2 separate regions of the Homo sapiens genome follow, and region 2 is linked to region 1. The links come from fine-mapping of genetic effects on gene expression. Tissue or cell type: whole blood. Region 1 holds a variant in brackets; the other region holds the start of a gene. All regions are shown on one strand. Distances are from middle to middle.

Region 1 (11,022 bases):
AAATCTATGTAGGAAGCATCTGGGAAACTAAAAAACTAAGACAAATGAAAATTAGGACTATATTACCAAGAATGAGTTTCAGTAATAAATAGTCTGGCTATTCCCTGGACAAAAAAAATAATAATCAAAATAAGTCAGATAACAATGTTTATAGGCAATGATTCACAAAATATTTTTAATACCCAGTTATTTAAGAAGTATGTTCATTTTAAACTAAAAGATGTTTCTGAATTTCATTTCGTTTGATTGTCCTTTAACACACATAAGGACTATGAAACTAAGGGTTTTTTTTTTTTCTCAGAGATAAAACATAAATTTTAGATACTCACATTTTTTCCTAAGGTTTTTTATGCATTTGAAATTTGCAAACTGAAATGAACCAACATTGGTTGCAGTCATATTTGAACTTTGCATTAATCCAAATTTCCTAATCAAATTTGCTTATTTAGCTAATGGCTTTAGTAATGAGATTTTACATAACTTAATTGTTAAATGTGATTACACAGACACATTTGCTCACTTTTTTCCCAAGAATTATGCTTAGTTTTAAGCAACATTTATAATATGACACTTGGAAAAATAAATCTTTAATCTCTATCATTCAACAGGACTGATAATTTAATAGCACGGTACACTCATGAAACACAAATGCTCCCAAATCTTGTTTGATAAAATAGATATGAGTCAAAATTCTCAAGTGACTACACTGGCAATAAAAGGAATTAAATTCAAAATCCTTTTTAAATTCACTTACTGTAAATAAGTCGCTACTACTTGAATTAATTACAGTAATTCCAAAATTTAGAGAGACACAAGAGCTTAGGAATTAAGTAACTAATATGCACTAGCCACTGTGTTGGAACTGAAAACATAAAAAGAACCACGATCAAACATGCAGCCAGGTTTGGTCATGTCACGAGCAGCACAAGAATCCTGCATTGCTTTAGGAAATCACCTGAAAGGAGCGCACTTCCTCCCTTACCCCACCTCTTTGCTGCTAGCTGTAAGGCAGAAGTCCTGTGTTGAGGGAGGTAGTGGTCAAACCAAAACTAACACACAAGTCCTGGAAACTAAGCCCTTTATAAAACTGTCCAACCAGCAAGGACTGCACATCTCTGGACTCCCTTTTTAAAAGACAGATTTAAAAAATGTGTAACTGGTTTAAGCTACTGTTATTTTGGGTTTCTTATCACTTGACAACCAACCTCTTCCCAACTGACAAAATGCCATATGCATTATTCGTGTTTTTAAAAATGTATAATGCTGCCGGGCGTGGTGGCTCATGGCTGTAATCCCAGCACTTTGGGAGGCCGAGGTGGGTGGATCACCTGAGGTCAGGAGTTCGAGACCAGCCTGGCCAACATGGTGAAACCTCGTCTCTACTAAAAACAAACAAACAAACAAAAAAACACCACACACAAAAATTAGCAGGGCATGGTGGCATGCGCTTGTAGTTCCAGCTACTAGGGAGGCTGAGGCAGGAGAATCATTTGAACCCAGGAGTCAGAGGCTGCAGTGAGCCAAGATTGCACCACTGGACTTGAGTCTGGGCAACAGAGCAAGACTCCATCTCAAAAAGACAAACCATATATACATATGTGTGTGTGTGTGTGTGTCTGTGTGTGTATGTATATATAAAGTTATAAAATATGTAACATCAAATATAGCGCTCATAGAGAAATTTTAATAAAAACTTCATTTAATTACATTCAAATAAATACAAAGTATGAGTTGTCTGGTTTTGAGTGATAACCAGATTAGACAACTGCCAAGAATAAAACTTGGAATTAAAATATTTAATTAAAATTAAATAATTTAAGAATGTAATAGGTGTATGAAATTGGAACTCTTAAATTAAGTTCCTAGACATCAGAGTGGTCACAGATATCAGTTTGTCCAAAAGAACAATGACATTAGTAGTATTTTTTTAAGGCATATGAATCCTTTTCATATCCAAATACTAGAAAGAGGTGAACTCAGAAATTTTTAAGTAGAATAGAAACAGGTAGGATTTTCATCTCAGAAAAAAAAGTTCAGTGAGATATAAGTTATTGAATCTGAGCTCCGCGGGAGATACCAGAGACAAAGCTATAGTTTCTGGTCTCATGAAGCACTTCTGTGACTTTTAGGTTATCTTAGGATAGCAGACTTTGTATTCGAGGACCAAGCAAAAGAATTCTCATTACTCATATTTTTTTTTCTCAAATCATATACTCTATTTCTCTCCCTTTCTCTTTTCCTTAATTAAACTATGTTAAATACTGGTTAAAAATGACATTTTAACTAAGAGTGTTTTGGATAGAAAAGCACTAATAGAGGATGCAAATGTAAATGACCGACTTTCTTTAAAACACGTACTTTCGAGTTATTAGAAAAATGCTTAACACACTTGCTGTGAAAGGCATAATTGAATACATATTTTAAAATACTGCTACGTTATTCTATGTGATTTTTGCATATCATATGTACTGTGAGCAAAATTAAAAGATGTACCCTTCTTTAAAAGGTTAAATTCCAGCTGGGCGCAGTGGCTCACACCTGTAATCTTAGCACTTTGGGAGGCCGAGGCGGGAGGATTGCCTGAGCTCAGGAGTTCGAGACTAGCCTAGGCAATCTGGTGAAACCCTATCTCTACTAAAACACAAAAACAAAAAAAGAAAACAAAACAACAACAACAAAATAGCTGGGCGTGGCGGCATGTGCCTGTAGTCCCAGCTATTCAGGAGGCTGAGGCAGGAGAACTGCTTGAACCCGGGAAGTGGAGATTGCAGTGAGCCGAGATTGTGCCACTGCACTCCAGCCTAGCGACAGAGCGAGACTCCATTTCAAAAAAAAAAGTTAAATTCCACTGGGAAGGGTATTGAACTAGTTGTTTCCCTGCTCTATACTTTCATTGAACTAAGAAAAATGGAAAAAAGGAGATGGACAGAAAAACCACCACCATGCCACACATAAACTAGGTAAATAAGGGCACATGATTCTATTACATAGGTCTCCAAAGCTGAAATCTGTTTCAGAGTGTGTCACTTGTGTCACAAAACTGCAAAGTAGGTGTCAGAAAATACAGTTAAGCCCTCTCTCTGGTATCCTTCTTTTGACACAGACCTAATTATTTGTTCTAAATTGAATTTTGTTTAGACTTGGACAACTAAATAAAGTATAATAATGCCACTGTCTTTCATAAAGTTCTTTTTTTAAATTCTAACCTGTTAAATATGAAACAGTAGGCATTCAATCTAAATGACTTTTTAATTATTTCAGATGGATTGCCAAAAACGTTATTCTTTAACATTATTAGAGAAATAACAAGTTGCAGCTTTTGAAAATAATTTTTATATGAGTTTTTCCTTAAGAGTCTAAAGAAAGAGAAACATATCCTCACTACAGTATCATTTATTTAAAAGTTTGTGAAGTCTTGATTAAATGGAGTATTCATTACAAAGAGGCTTCTCCTGAGATTGAACATGGACTATGACATCTAAATAAGCCTTTATGTTCCATATTAGTCCATTACTACCTTTGTGACAGGTGGTGAATAAGACGCTTTACAACTATTATGTATTTCTCACAATGAACCCATAAAGGTATCAACCTTATCTTAAAATGAAGGGTTCAAAGATCAGAATGGTTAAGCAACTTAAGTCTATGCAGCTAGTTGTTATTGTTGGATCTAGGATTCGGAGAACTACATTGTATATTCATATATGCATAATTTACTTTGTACCTACCTTTTGAATATATAACTAAGACTACATTTTCTTCCACATGTCAAAATAATAGGTGTGAATATATTTTCCTAGTTTAAAAACAGTACTCAACAGGAAGTAATAAAGATTAATACTTGGGGTTTAAGTTTTTCATATTATTTCTTTCCACCCTTGCAATTAGCAATAGCAATTATTATTCTTTTTACTTTAGAGTCTAAAAATGAAGGGGGAGAATTTAAATAATTTGTCCATGATAATGTAGCTGTCAAGACTCAAGATGAGATTCAAATTCAGAGGTATCAGGCTTCAAATCACCAACACTGGGAATAGGTGACTGCTTTTAGCTTAGTATTAATACCCGCCCTTTCTCTCTGGTTCATATACACACTGCTTCTTAATTATCTCAGTCAACAAATTTCTCTTCTTTTCTTATTTATACATGCACTTCCCAACATGTAAGCATCTTGAATTTGCATCGTGAGATAAACTGCAGCCTCCCAATGACAGTCAACCTCTATTTTACCAAGAAATGCATCACAACCAATACACTTATAAAGGGGTTTCCTTGAGTTACTCTTGTGCTTTGGACTCACTCCTCTTCATGGACGTGGTTGCCAGTGAGATAAGACATAGCCCCAAAATGGCATAGCCAGGGAACACTAAGAAATAGAATAAAATTACCAGCTAACAAACTCTTCAGATTTTATTATCATATAATTATATCAAATTTCTAGACATTATATTAACGTCTCTTATATTATATAATGCAACTCAACCCAATGTTGCAGATGAAGAATAAGGATTAAATAATTTGCCTAAGGTCAGACACAGGACCAATAAATGAATGATTTGAAGCCAAGTCTGTTTAAAGCCAAAGACATGCTCTGAAGTATTTCACTGAGCTGCCTCCAAAGTACAAGGTTGCCAGATAATTTAATTTAAAAAATTTTAAAAAAGCAACTTTTCCCCTTTCCCCATTACCCTTCCCATGAAAACAAATATGACTCTGGTAAGTCCATATATATCTTCTGGAATCACAGTCAAATCTCTTTCAAGTATTTCCTTCATCCTCTGGGAGAATTTTTATTTAAAACAAACAAAATTAAGAAATGAAAAGCATCTAACACAAGTTAAAGGCACTAACCACAAATGATTTAACTTTAAACCTATATACTGATTTACTATCTATTCTTTGCTATTTGCAGGTGCTATCCAACATGGACGTCTAATCTTTATGTAATTTCTTGGAGAAGAAACACCTATCAGTTGGAGAGTGTGTAACCACTGCAGAGGAACTCCTACGCTGGAATACAAGCATAGGCCAAAACCTTTCTTGCTCAGTAAAACTCAATGTAGTTAGACTGACTTGTTTATTCATTCAAAACATATTTTGAAAGTACCATTATGGAGGTTTAATGATTAGAAAAGATAAATTATTTAAAAAGCAGCGCCAATGCTGAGTTGATATGCTTTGAATGCTTTGGTATAGTATGATACACTATGGAAGTCCACAGCCAGAAAACCTAACTTAAACAAGTTTGTTCAGGCAGAGGGAAGAAAAAAGGAAAAAAAAAAATAGCTTTTGAGAATTCTACAGAAATCAACACACTCAAAAAAATTACAAAAAGAAAAAAAAGCTTCACGGCAAGATTCCATCACAGATATGGTTATAATTTGGGTTAGAGATGACCCCATGGGCACACAGAGATTTAGTGCAATGCACTCACTTTAAACATAAATGTTCAACAAAGTGGGTGTTTTCTTTGTCCCTTAACAGCAGTGCACTAATGAAAGTCTGCTGTTAAAGCAATAAATTATGAAAGGGGAAAAGGTATCATGTATCTTATGGACCAGCGGGAATAGGTGTTAGGTCATACAAGCAGTTTCTAAGTTAAAAATAAGGAAGATGAGTTCCAAAAATGAAAGTCTGAAGCTATATATATATTTTTTTGCTTGGAATAGATTTTTCAACTTAGCAACAATTCACTTGAAGGTTTATCCTGAATACTTCAGAATTAGAAGAAAAACACTATTCATAACAATCTTTTTTTTT[T/G]TTGTTTAAATTAAGGTAGGGTTTCCCTCTGTTGTCCAGGCTGGAGTGCAGTGGTATAAGCATGGCTCACTGCAGCCTGAGTCTCTTGGGCTTAAGGAATTCTCCCACATCAGCCTCCTAAGTAGCTGGGACTATCGGCATTTGCCACCAGGCCTGGCTATTTTTGCTTTTTAAATAGAAACAAGGTCTCACTATATTGCCCAGGCTGGTCTTGAACTTCTGGGCTCAAGTGACCCTCGTGCCTTGGCCTCCCAAAGTGCTGGATTACAGATGTGAGCCACTGAGCTTGGCCTGTAACAATCTTTCTAAAGTTGCATTTGTTGATTTAATTTTGGTGCAGAAAAGGAATGGCCCCCTTCACTGAACTCAGTGGTCATAGAGAATGAGGAGCAATTCATTGCCATAGGCATCATTTAGCGGCTTCAGTCATGGAAGCAGGAGCCAAATTGGTAGACAAGGCTGAAGAATGGAGAAAAAGGGCTGAGAGACGTTGACAGAATGATGGAGGTCTGGGGATCAAGATGCCAAATTAAGAGAAAACTGGCAAATACACTCAGCAGCACTTGCTTCTATTCTCTTTTCTATTCATTCTACCCTTATATTTAATAAGGCTACTGGTCTTATTTCCCTTGACTTTTCTTTAAAACAAAACAAAACAACAACAAAAAAACAGGGCGTAAGAAATGGCCAACTTGCTTATTTTTCCAAGCCATCGATTGTTGCTTTTGATTAAAAATTGCACTCTGAGGCTGGGCACGGTGGCTCACGCCTGTAATCCCAGCACTTTGGGAGGCCGAGGCAGGCGGATCACCAGGTCAGGAGATCGAGACCACGGTGAAACCCCGTCTCTACTAAAAATACAAAAAATTAGCCGGGCATGGTGGCGGGCGCCTGTAGTCCCAGCTACTCGGGAGGCTGAGGCAGGAGAATGGCGTGAACCCGGAAGGCGGAGCTTGCAGTGAGCCGAGATCGCGCCACTGCACTCCAGCCTGGGCGACAAGAGCGAGACTCCGTCTCAAAAAAAAAAAAAAGAAAAAAAAAGAAAAAAAAATTGCACTCTGCTCCAACACCCAGTTTCAGGAGACTGAGTACACACTTTGCAGCCCAGGTTTGCACCTAACACTAAAGTTGGTCTTTGAAGATTTAGAGATTTTTTTCTAAAGAAATTTTATTTCAAACAGGCAAATGTACAGGGGACACACTCAAACACAATACCATCTTTTAAAGGCTGTCCTTAGAATAACAGTGCAGTTAAAACCCAGTCACCCTGTAGACTTAAGACAACTTGGATTGTTCTAACCAGAAATTTCTGTTGTTAAAGAAAGTGCATGCCTGGGCCGGGTGCGGTGGCTCACGTCTGTAATCCCAGCACTTTGGGAGGCCGAGGAGGGCAGATTACGAGGTCAGGAGATCGAGACCATCTTGGCTAACACTGCGAAACCCCGTCTTTACTAAAAAATACACAAAATTAGCCCGGGGTGGTGGCGGGCGCCTGTAGTCCCAGCTACTTGGGAGGCTGAGGCAGGAGAATGGCGTGAACCCGGGAGGTGGAGCTTGCAGTGAGCCGAGATGGCGCCACTGCACTTCACCCTGGGCGACAGAGCAAGACTCTGTCTCAAAAAAAAAAAAAAGAAAAGAAAAGTGCATGCCTACTCTCTGAGTCTGATGATGACATGTGGTTTCTAGAACAAGGCTCCATCTGTCTCTCTATTGCTAGATGGCTGTTGGACATTTCCTCACACTGTCCTCCTTATTATCAGAATAGCAAGATGGCATCACTTTTACCCAAACCCTGTGCCATGAAACACCCTCAGCTTATCATCTGTAACAATAGGGTCGCTAAGTGCAAAATGAAATGAGAGGCACAATGATTAAAAGCAATGGAGATGTGAAGCAAAAAGGGCATCCTTAGGTATTCTTTAATTCTGCAGGGGTAAATGGGAGAGAAGAAGGGAGAAAGAGAGAAGGAAAGATTCTAAAGTAATCTATGTACACCCTTCACACATGAGGAATTTAAGGAAAACATATGTACCTAAATCAATGTGCATGCAACTATTATTTATTGAACACATATGCTAAGCACTATTGCAGACACTAAGAATATATATAAAAACAATGCTTTGGTGAAGCTTACATTTTAGCAATATACAAAGTAAACTAGGTTTACATTAATTTTAATATCATTATTTGTCATTATAGGTAGTAAATTATATAGTTCACTAGAAGGTAATACATGCAATGTTTTAAAGAATAAAGTATAGGGGAACAGAAGTCTGAGAGAGGCAGATGGGTTGCTAATTTAAATAGAATTGGCTAGGAGGCCTCATTCAGAGAGTAACATTGAAGCAAAGAATTGAAAGAAATGAGTGATATAATTTAGCTATAGAAATAATGTATTATTTAGTAGAAATAATATGTAAGAAAAAATAAGCAGCAGATGACACATTCATTTTTTAAATTCACTATCATCTAAATATCCAGATGTCCTTCAAACTTCAATTACACTTTAAGTAACTTTTCCATCATATAGGGGAAACCACAGTTAGGTTTTGTACAAGAAAGAAAGTAAATTAAGTGAAAGACAATATTACTATATTTCCTGGTGTGTCTAGGAAATAATTCTTAACTCACAGTAATTGGAAATCTGCAGAGGACTGATTGGAACTACACAAATAAATTTACATCTGTTCATTTTTCTTCAGGAGCAGAGAAATAAGAAACTTTTTTCATAATGCAAAACCTCCTTCTGAGAAAATTGAAATTAATTTACTTGAAATTCTGCTGCACATCAGCCTGCACTTTCCATGTTAGCGTAATTTTAGGAACAACAGAAAGCTTCTGGCCATTTAAGTAACTTTCAATCAGTTTTAAAGTTAAACCAAACAAAAGGCATTAAAACAGGATGTGATTATGAACTTCTTTATAAACCTCTTTTATGGGTTTTCTAATATATGCCCTCAAATTTACCTACAGTGTCCTGGATGAAAACGACAATAAAATTAAAGGCCTTTTAATGAGATTGCAGAAAAATGTCTTTCACCATTTTCCAACATGGAAAATAGTTTAACTCACTCTACACTCTTGAATGAATATTTCTACATAATACAATTTTGCAGCTACGTTTGTAAGAGAAAACCTTTAATACAAATGAGCATAGGAATGAGTGAATCTTTCTTTTGCCAGGCTCCAATTTCTAAAAGGATTCTGATTTCCCCCAATTCTGCTTTGGGGTAGAGTGGGGAGTGCAAGGCTTAATAGTTAGTTCAGCAGGCAATTCTAGACACCAATTTCCATTGCTATAAGAGGAATGAGTGTGAAATCAGTTGTTTGATTCAATTTGATTTGAAAGCATTTAAGAACTAAGGAGGTACTGAAGACCTCACTATGTGATAGAAACAAATACATATTAATTTACATCTCCAGCCATCAAAGACCTCCTAGTGTGAATCTCAGTTCTTTGGTCTTTGTGTCCATATATTTCATAAGATAAATTCACTCTCTGAATGATACCCTGTAGTTTTGTGATAGCAACATGCTGTTCTCTGAATACCACGTGGAGGAGAAGTGAATAACATGTTTAAGTTTCTACACCTAGGACTGATGTCACTATCTTTTTTTCCCATGGGGACACAAAAAAGTCCATAGAAATATTTAACTTCTCTATAGTACATGGTTTTGGCCATTTTCTCCCATCTTACTGTCCTAACCAACAGCTTCAATGACATCACACAACTTAGTCTTTTACTGTACTCCTTAAGCCAACTTTAGGTTTCTACTTTTTCTTTTTCTTTTCCTTTTTTTTTTTTTTTTTTGAGACTGTCACCCAGGCTGGAGTGCAGTGGTGCAATCTCGGCTCACTGCAAGCGCCATCTCCCGGGTTCACGCCTTTCTCCTGCCTGGGAGTCGCTGGGACTACTGGTGCCCGCCACCACACCCAGCTAATTTTTTGTATTTTTAGTAGAGATGGGGTTTCACCGTGTTAGCCAGGATGTTCTCGATCTCCTGACCTCGTGGTCCGCCCACCTTGGCCTCCCAAAGTGCTGGGATTACAGGTGTGAGCCACCATGCCCAGCCAGGGTTCTATTTTTTCTATCGATCTCCTTAAATATCGGTATTCCCTAGGATTCCACCCATGGTTCTTCCATTTATTCTTATGCATATTATTCACATACACATTATTTATTTTCAGTTTTAATTTACATAATTATGACACCAAAATCTATACCCTTTAGCTCAAAATGCTCTCATGAACTATGGAAACACATTCCAGTTGCCCACTGGATGTTCAATAGTCACCTCAAACTTAGCCAACACTGAAAAGTAATTCCCCCAAACCACCTTACTTACCTGTCTTTCTAGTATGACTCCTCTATTCTTTTCTTTTTCATTTCTCTTTCCTTCAGGCTGATTTACATTTCTTTGTATACCTTGTCACGATAATATAAGCATATCACTCAGAAAAGATGTCACTTTATTACATAACATTCTATTTTTACATCCAGACTTCAAGTTACTTGAGAGTAGAAACTACACTTTGTCAGCTTATTCCCATCTTTTAATATGATGTCTATCACTCTGAAGGTACTCAGTATTTGTTGAATAAATTAATGGATCCTTATTTCCAAAATGTAAATTCATATTTATAAATATACTCAAAAGACATAATCAGTCTTGACTGAACTTTAGAATTGCTCATTCTTTCTCAGAATTATGTGAAAACTAGTGATGTCTGAAATAGGTGCTATAAGAATTGAGGATTTTGAGTGGCAGGAAGATAAATTTCACCTTGAGAGCTAAACTGTAAAATCAATCACAGTGAATCAGAGAACAGGAGTGCAAAATCAACTGTGGACAAAAAAGATACCTCCAAAACTAGCAGGGATGCAGTGTAACTGACCATATTAGTGCAACAACTGAGTACAAAATGTAAAAGTGTGTAGGGAGCAGGAGGTGATGAAACTTTGAAAGCTCTGGAAAAGTAAATTTAGAGTCAAATGCCAATAGCAATTGTCTCAGCACTTTCCAGGAAAGGAGGAGCTGCAGCCAAGAGGTTTCATAGCATCAGGCTGTCTTAGATGAATGTCATTATAAATTTATTCATCCAATACTACTTGGATTGACGCTGTTACAAATTAAATGTTTTCAACACATTGAGAGACAAGCTTGTCAAACAAACTTGTGATTCCCATATAGACTTGCTCAGATTGAGTCATTCTAGTACCTATGACAATATAATGAACGAAATCTCTTAAAAACACTGAC
Region 2 (9,336 bases), 260 kb after region 1:
AAAAGAAGGTATGCAGTCCTGCTGAAATATCCCTCCACTTTTTTAAAAAACTGAGCTCCTAAATGAGGACAGCTATTTATAGAGGAGAGGTCTTTACATTCAATAACCCACCGTTCCTTTCCTTGGAGGCTGCCACACTTGTCACTTTTGTGAAGCCATTAAAATAAGTATCCAAAGCTGATACAATACTCTGCTCCTAAGAGAGAACCAGAAAGGTTAACAGATGAAAGTTGCTGTGTTAAAAGCACTTCAGATGAGTATAATAAAGTTATAAGAAAGTAGGTTTGTCAGCCACAGATTTTTCAAAGAGCCTTAAGGGTAAACGTCATCCTTTCCTAATATTACAAAGGTTCCTGCTTTAGAGACAACGCACCTTTAGCCTACGAAAGACAGTTGTACCACCAGAGGCATTTTTTTGAAAAGTGCTTTTAGTGTGCTGAGCAGCAACAAAACTGTTAGAAAGACAAACTATGTTCCTAATGCATGCTGGAATGCAAAAGGTTGTTGCTATTTCAAAATTATAGCAGAAGAGAATTCAGTATTAACAACAGGGGCACATTAGCACTGAAGAACTAAGTGCAGATGACAAAACAAAAGCCCATAGAATCACCAATGTAAATGTAATAATCGTGCATGTATGTGTGTGTGTATGTGTGTATGAAAACAACTAAGAGACAGATGGCAATTTTCCCTGTGGCATTTGCACATGTCCATTCAATGCATGTATGTGGGTCAATTACTATGATAAACATCATGTGACAGGCTCAATGGAGGTAAAGCGGTTCATACTGACTTCACCTAATTTTAATTTATTGATGAGATATACTTATTCAAAACAGCAAAATGAACTTTTTCCAAATAGGTTTGTTTAAACAATCAAAATGTAGTTAGAAAATAAAATGCCACCTAAAATAATTTATAAACTCTAACTTGTATTCCAGTGAAAACTGGGAAGGAAACTGAAGAGTAAGACCATACTTCTGTATACAGTGGCTTCTTATAATAATCACTTGATAAGACAACCACTGATACAAAGAGAGCTTCTCCCTTACTTAATTATATAGTAATTCTTTCTAAACATGCTTTTTACTAAATACCAGGCCTGCCTTCAGTAGTTACACATGCTGGAATCTTAAGATAACAATCTCAGATTGGTCAAAGACAAGTCTATTAGAGAGAACTTTTTAAAGATAAGTTAACAGAGTGATTATTTCACGAGGGATTCCTATCATACCAGGTCAAAAAACCCAAACTAACAATAACATTAAAAGATCAAGCAGAAATAATAGTTCAATATCTTTAGAAAGAATGCAGGTTTTAAAAAAATTGTTAATATACTTAAATTCCATTCCTTCATTTTAAATAATATTAAAATCATTATAAAGAAAAAATTAACTCATGTGTTTATAAAAACTGAGATTTCCATTTATACCCAAATGAAAAGCTAACTAGGAGTGAATTATTAAGAGCTTGATGTAATTTTAATTCCATAGTAGAAACTTCTGCTGTGTAGTTGTTTCTCCAAGTTTCAAAAAATTACTGCACAGTGGAATAGCTAAGAGATCTACAGGTAACATTAATGATTCTGGTTGAGTTTAACAAATGCAAAATGGGCAATAAGAAAATAAATTTTCAGAGGAGTCGCAAATATATTTTCTACTTCCAAACCTGCAAATTGTCTTTGCAAACTAATAAATTATTTTACTCATATGAGAATTTAAAGCATGTAAAAGTTGCATTATCTTATTTACTTGTCGATGTATAAAAAGGGCATGTCACCAATTAGAAGATATGTGCTAAGTGAAATCAGACTTCTAAAGTTTAGAACAGTTATGGTTTGTTTACCTTTGTCTGCTTTGAAGTAAACTGACTCCTCTCATGGTGTTATCTCCATAAGAAACTCATAACAGTATTATTAAAAAGGATAAGAAAAAAGTGATGCCATGTCATCCTCAACAAATGCGTAAGAATGCAGAGAGTTTTGGGTCAGAGAAGTTTTACCACTGACCTAAACACCAAATTTCTCCAGAAAATAAGAGAAAATCCTTTAAGGAATCACATACAACATAACTTAAAATTTGGCAAAGACTGCATATTGTTAATTTCAATTTTCCTCTAACCACAACTTAAGATTCAATACTAGATTGAAAGCAAGGGGAGGGAGGATGAAGCTGAAACCACATACCCTTTTTCATCAGATACTGTGAATTCTTCTCCTCCACTGTTTGTTTCATCACATCAGAGGCATATTCTTAAATTTAGCACAGAAACACTTGTAAAATATTAAATTTTACCATAGAGAAATTGATTGTGCTATAAGAAAGTTTCATGTTACCATTTAATTTCAACCAAGCTACATCAAACATGGAAAGAAATTATATATAGTTTATAAAGTAAACGATCACTATATTTAAAAGAAATGATAACCTTGAGAAGTACCACAGCAATAATGATTTAGTTAAGCAAGTCAGGAATAACAGCCATCTCCCTTGAGTGCTTCTCCCTTCACTTCTGGCACTGGCCTCTCCTTACAGAACTGGATTTCACAAAAGTTCCTGGAGGGCAGCAGAATCCACAGGTCTAGTTTAAGCAATGTTTTAAACATGAATCTTTGCATCTGAAATGTAGTAGCGGAAATAAACAAATTATCATCATCCTACAGTTTACACTTGGCTCCCCAGCTTTCCTCCCCCTTCACACACCAGTGAGTTACAGTAGTTAGATAGAAAATATATCAGAAAAGCCACAATTTATAGTGTAACTTCACAATGAATCACTTGAACAGGCTGTGCATACAACAAATAAGTTCAGTGCTCCTATTTATGTGTCTCATAATTTCTAGGATACATAAAAACAAAGTTTGCTGCTCTTAAGATTTCACATTCTAAGAATATGTGATGGCATATGTAGTTCTGCTAAGAAATCAGTGTAAAATACACTTTTCAAATTGTAGCAAAGTATAATTCACAGTTACAGGCCCTCAATATTTTATCAATATATACTATCTAGACATCATATTGAGCATGCTATCAATAAAATCATATGGGCAAATAATCATACTATATTCACCTATGTAGCTACAAGATAGAAGTCACGAATTTTAACACTCCATTAGACTATTGCATCTGAAAAACTTACAACTGCCAACCATCAAAGCACAACTAATTTATCATCACACTCACACCATTCTTCCAAGTTACAAGGTCCAGTCCTAACACTTCTGATGACTCAAGAGCACAGAACAATTATACCTATAGAAAAATGCATATCCAAATTTAACCTTAATTTTTAAAGAATGGCTTCTTCTGATGTGTATTTTCTTAAGGATTAGACAGCAATGAACAAGGGCATACAATAGGAATACTTGATTCACCACCGTGTTCTATAACAAGTTGCATTATTATAATAAGTTTCTTTTTTTAAATAAACTCTATATTCTTGGTTTAAATGCTTACTATTCAAACTGCCCCCAAGAGCCAGTAACTGCCCACACTGACCCAAGGTGGTTTTAGTGAAAAGTCACCCATCAAGTTGCATTATTATAGTAAGTTTCTTTTTTTAAATAAACTCTATATTCTTGGTTTAAATGCTTACTATTCAAACCGCCCCCAACAGAGCCAGTAACTGCCCACACTGACCCAAGCTGGTTTTAGTGAAAAGTCACCCATCTTTGGAAACAAGGGCTTTTTCCACGAATATGCTAGAAATAGCAGGTGCACCATTACACAAAATTGGAGAGAACAGAAATTTACCTCACTCCTACAGACCATTTCTCAGAGCATGCTGTGTAGTTGCTAAAATCAGTATGCTGCGTAAAAGTTAAGAAAAAATGTATGTCTAACAGTGGTTCCCTATCAACTAGCCTCTGGTAGGCACTACATAAAATGCATTAAGACGGGTTTGCTGGATGTTCTGGCACCTATTATCAGGTGATTTTTTAACAGAGATGTGAAGATGCTTTTAGCAGGAGAATGGGCACACCAGAGAATACAGAATGTGGCTAATTACGACGAGAAGAAGATTCTGCCTTCACCTCCCCTCACTGTCAACCACTTTGCGTAAGTGCTCTCACTGCCTCGCCCTAACCCTGGGGATCCATTCACTTTTCATAGCTCAGAGAGGCTGCTGAAAAGCTGTCAAAGTAAATCTGTGCTCACTTTTTGGATGGTTTAATTTCAATGGAGCATGAAACACCCCAGGACGGTTAATAAGTTTAGCCAGGCGTGCTGTTATCCCTAATATATTTTAATTATGCATCTGTTTTAATTGTAATCAGATTAAGACACCGGAAGGACACAAATTGGAATTTTCCCTAATGGATATAGGGGCTTTTCATCACTTTCTGAACACTAATAACGTTTAAAAGATAGGAAGAGACACCAACACAACGGTGACATTTTCCAGAAATCGATGCAGTTTCTTTGACAACACAGTTCAGGTCTCATTAGCCACCCAAACTAACCTAAGTGCAGAAGACAACTTCAGTCTCTAGGGGCGTCTTCTTCTCCAATTAGTACAAAAGAACCACTAACATCTAATGTACAACTCCCAAACAGAAATGAGAAAGCCGAGGCTTTTATAAAGTGCTGCCCAATGGATTGGTGAAGGAGGCTAGGGCGGCGGGAGAGACCATCAGCAGCATTATTTTGGCTCAAAGTAAAAGTCTATACACGTTAAAAGGGAAAGTTAAAGCAGAGAACGATCTCCCTTTTCACAATTTTGGCAACTATCAAACGTGTGTTTTAACTTCGGGAAATAAAAGTGTCCCATCAATAAAAGGAAACGGGACAGGGAGGATCTATCAGGGATCGAGGAGAGGCTTCCTCCCAACCAGACGTAAAATCACTTAATGTGCTTTGTTGCATCAAGGAATACCTAAGACTTTAATTTAATACGTTCATTAAACAGTTTCCCAAATTGCCGGGATTTCCGCTAAGAAACTCAAGCGTCTGCCAACAGCCGAGAAGCAAGGGAGAGAACCTGCTGCAAACTAGGAGCGGAAACTCCCTCGGCCCGCCCAGCGCGCCTCACGTCCCCGGTGTTTGATTTAGGTGTTAATGTTTACGTGTCGCCTAAACCATCAGGTGCTGAACCAGTTCCTCCAAGACGCACTTTGAGCCTTAAAGAGGGAAGCTTCAGAGCCACTGCGGAGTGTGCCCCCTGCAGCCCGTCGCCCCCTCCTCTCGGCCCCTTACCTGTCATCATAGCAGAAATCCGCACTCAGGGTGTTGAGATACAAGGCGAGCCCCAGAGCGCTGCTCACCAACTCTGCAATCATCTCTCCACCGCCTTCCCTCCGGCTCGGCTCCCAGCGCGAGGGCAGCAGCGGCAACAAAAAACAGAAGCATCAATCTCCACCTTCCGCCGCCTTCTCCTCCCAGCTTCACTTTTCCCTCGCTTCCCCACCCTCCCTCCCTCGGGTCCTTCCAATCCACGACTCCTCTCCTCCTCCTCGCGCCCGTCTCCGCAGCTCCTGCGTCCTCCCCGGGTGCGGGCTCACACCACACTCCCCATGCCCGGCGCCCGCAAGCGGTGAGCGGCGTTTGGGCTCCGCGTCCCCCGGCGGAAGCGCAGGGCTGGTCTTTCGCGCGGGTCGCGATCCCCACCCTAACCCATGGCAGTTTGGGGCGTCCTAGGTGAGGAGTGGGACTCGGAGGAGGTGGAAGGGTGCGGGATGGGGGCAGAGGGACCGGACCAAGCCGGGCTCTGGGACCAGCTGGAGGAAGAGAGAGAAAGAGGCGCGGGTGGGAGGGACAAGGCGAACCGCCTCCCCTCGCCGCCTCCCGGGCGCACTGCTCCGGTGTCGCTCGGGCGGACTCCGGCCGCCAAGGCAGCTGCTGCACATTCAATGTTTATTAGCTCCCTCCCAGCCCCAGCCCCAGCCCCAGCCCCAGCTCCCTTCTCCAGTGAAGTGAGAAGCGGTGGCTGGAGACTCCAGAAGCTCCCGCGTGGGGTTCTCGACGCGGCCCCCCGCGCCTGCGTGACCAACCCTCCATCCCGGCTTGGCCCAGCCCCTTTCTCCACCCAGATCCTCCCGGAAGGCTCCTCCTACCCTGCCCCTCGGGCTGGAGGCTCCTCCCACCCTCCCCGGCCTGGAGGCTCCTCCTACCAGCCTCCCGTCCTCTTGTTTCTTTCACCTTCGATTTCACTCTGGAAAGCCCCCGGGACCCAAGGGCGACGGCTGGAAGACAGCCCAAAGGAGTAGATACAGTGCACCCTGGGAGGGGAAGCTGGGAGAAAGGAGGTCGAGGAGGAGGTGGTCGGTCGCCCCGCTGCTGCCTGGCAGCGCCTGGCACGGCTGAATCTCAGCCACAGCGCTGTGTGTGCCAAGAGCTGCCAGGCGTAAGTCCGGTCAGCTGGAGAGACTTCTGAGACCGGGAGAGGAAGAACAGGTTTGGCGACTGCTGCAGCTTCGGTTGTCACAAACTCACTGGCGATCTCTCACGCACACTGTGTGTGAGACTAAATGGGGGGGAGGAGGTAGTATTGGAGAGCTTGGAGGCAACTTAGGAAGGAGAGATTTCAGCTCTTAGCCTACGGTTGGCCACAATGTCAGTGGAAAGACGTGTAGGGAGAGAAACGTTTCCTCCTTCAGTAAGGTTAAAAAGAAAGGACCCCAAAAAGGGAAAGAAAGACACACACACACCCCGCAGCAACTGCCCGGGGACCCCTTCGTGGTTTCAGAGGGACTGTCGGGTTGACCCTGAGAACACAGGAGAGAAACCTCTAGTGCAAGCCGGTACAGCATTATACTTAAACCTAGTAAGGCAGTAAGCTAATGCCCTTTCCTTTCCGCTCGGAGGCAGGACTGGATGGAAAGCATCCAACATGGTGAAATATGGTGTAGAATGGTCTGTGTAGAACAAGCTCTGGGTACTAAAGTTGCAAGACCAAAGAGGACCCAGGGCTGCCTGACACGCCTCCTCCCGGCTTGTTGGCTTTCTGGCCAGGAGAGTAGCTCCGGTGCACCGCGATGTACACTACTGCAGCGCCCCCTGCTGCATAGTAACCACAAGGTGTGGAAGACAGGTCTGTTTTGCATGCGGGCCGACTGGTTCCAACCAAGAGCAGCACCTAACCAGCAAGCTCTCCGAAACTGTGGCAAGAAATTGAGCCCCCTGGGTGTCTAGCAGTGGCCTGGAAAGAAAATACCGTGGTCTGGGCTTCTGTAGAACAAAGCTACATATTTCCCTGATTTCACAAGGAAATCTGAGAAATCTGTATTGGATACACACAGATAAAATGATGAATATTTATTAATATTATACCTGTTATGCCATCCACAGTAGCACATTTTTTGTGCCCTGGACAAATATATGTAAACAAAAATAAAAGGAATTATGTCTTTACAGGTAGGGACTGATCTTTTACCCTTTTCCTCCATAACCTTTGCTCACTTGAAAATTTTGAAAATCATATCAGTTAGTCCATCCTGATGCTCTGTGTCTCTCCAATGCACTTACATGCTGAGATATATATAGTATATATAAAATATGTATATGGTGTCCTAGAACACTGAAGGAAGAACACATACTGTGGGATCAGATGTTTAAGTTTGAGTGCATACTCTGCTATTACTATTTGGGCGATCTTTGGCCAGTCGTTCAACCTCTTTGTGACTCTGTTTTCTAATCTATGAAACAGTGATAATAATAGTACTTATCTTATGAGTACTGTTATTATGAGTATTAAAGTAGTTAACCTATGTAAAATATCTAAAAGGGACCAGGAAAGTGCTACAGAAGTATTAGCTAGTATATCATTATTACTATGCTTTCTAGCTTCCTCGTTTCATTTTACTTGTTAACAAAAACCTGGACAGTTACCTCCAAAACACATCCTATCACATCTTTACTACTTGAGTCCACAGCCCAGCTGCCCTCATCTCCTGCATAGACAAATGCAGTAGCCCTCTAAGTGGTCCCCGTACTTCTACCCCTGCAATGCCTCCCTTCCCCAATTTTAACTTTAGGCAGAAGTTTCCTTTGAAAACCTATACATTCCCAATTTTTAAATGTTCCACAACTTCCTGTTGTATTTTTAAATGTCCAACAACTTCCTGTTTTACAGCTAATAAAACTAATTCTTACCATGGCCAGCCAAGCCTTCATTTAGCCCAGACTACCCCTCCCGCTTCATGTTGTGTTCATATGTGTACAACACAGACATCCTTCTCAGGAACTAACCACTTTCTCTTCCTCCTGCATGAGGTTCTTCTCCTCAAACCTTCTCTAGCTCCTTCTCACCATTCAGGTCTTAGCTCAAATGGCATAACCTCAGAAATAAAGTAGGCTCTCCCCCATCAATCTCTATCCAACCACCATGTATTAGTTTCTTCATAGTATGTATTAGTATCTGGAAGCACCACTGAGTGGAAGCTCCATGAGGTCAGGGATCCTGTCAGTCTTCTTTTCCACATAAAACCCAGAGCCTATAACATCTGGACACGGAGAAGAAACTTTAAAAAGATTGTTAATAAATGAACAAAATAAATGTGCTTAGGAGAAACTACGTAACAGCTGGAAAATCCAAAAATTTTCATCGCTGATTTATTGTTTGTCGTTAGTGTTAAAGATCGTGAAGTATTAACCAAGGAGAGAGGAAGGGAGCAGGTTCACAGTTTTTCAGAATACATCAAGTCTGCAGGAATACCCGTGAAGGGGAGTCACATGGACAGGTCTCTTCAGTTATTAAGAGGACTCAGATATGTAAAAATATTAGAGAGCTTTGGGTTCCACATGCTAAAAGCTTGTAAGCCTTTTCCACAGCTGTGTTCATTTTTAAGGCTCCAATAGTTTAATTTAATTTTTAATTTTTTTTTTTTTTTGAAACAGAATCTCACTCTGTCGCCCAAGCTGGAGTGCAGTGGCCCGATCTTGGCTCACTACAACCTCTGCCTCCCGGGCTCAAGCGATTCTCCTGCCTCAGCATCCCCAGTAGCTGGGATTGTAGGTGTGTGCCATCAAGCCCGACTAATTTTTGTATTTTTAATAGAGACGGGGGTTTTACCATGTTGCCCACGCTGGTCTTGAACTCCTGACCTCAAGTTATCCACTTGCCTTGGCCTCCCAAAGTGCTGGGATTATAGGCATGAGCCACTGCGCCCAGCCATGGCTCCAATAGTTTTAAATAAATTTTATACACTCCTCCATCTCCTCGTTTTCTCCTTTCCCCACCTCCCAATACCTCTGAATTGGAAGCCTAGGTGACTGGGAGATGGGCTGTAAAATGGCACATCTTGCCTTCCCTGATAAACAGAAGGCTGAAAACCTAGCTGTGTTTGAGAAATCCAGTTGCTTTTAACAAATTTTTCTATTATAATTTAATGTAGGTTTC

What was found. PIP is the estimated chance that this variant, and not a neighbour inherited with it, causes the effect.
Region 2: it holds the start of TMTC2, and the variant in region 1 is fine-mapped to the expression of TMTC2 in whole blood (TOPMed, PIP above 0.99).

What each region holds. Positions count from the first base shown.
Region 1 is chr12:82,943,115-82,954,136 of GRCh38, reverse strand. All of the region lies in intron 4 of TMTC2 (transmembrane O-mannosyltransferase targeting cadherins 2), which reads right to left. Among named protein-coding and RNA genes, the nearest start is that of TMTC2, 260 kb to the right of the region's middle. The variant T/G (reference allele first, on the strand shown) is at 5,761.
Region 2 is chr12:82,683,529-82,692,864 of GRCh38, reverse strand. TMTC2 (transmembrane O-mannosyltransferase targeting cadherins 2) reads right to left here and starts at 5,959. Exons shown (of 12, transcript NM_152588.3): 1 at 5,196-5,959. The coding sequence starts at 5,278. RefSeq lists silencers at 4,939-4,998, 5,359-5,408, 5,979-6,078, 6,929-7,008 and enhancers at 6,119-6,328, 6,349-6,498.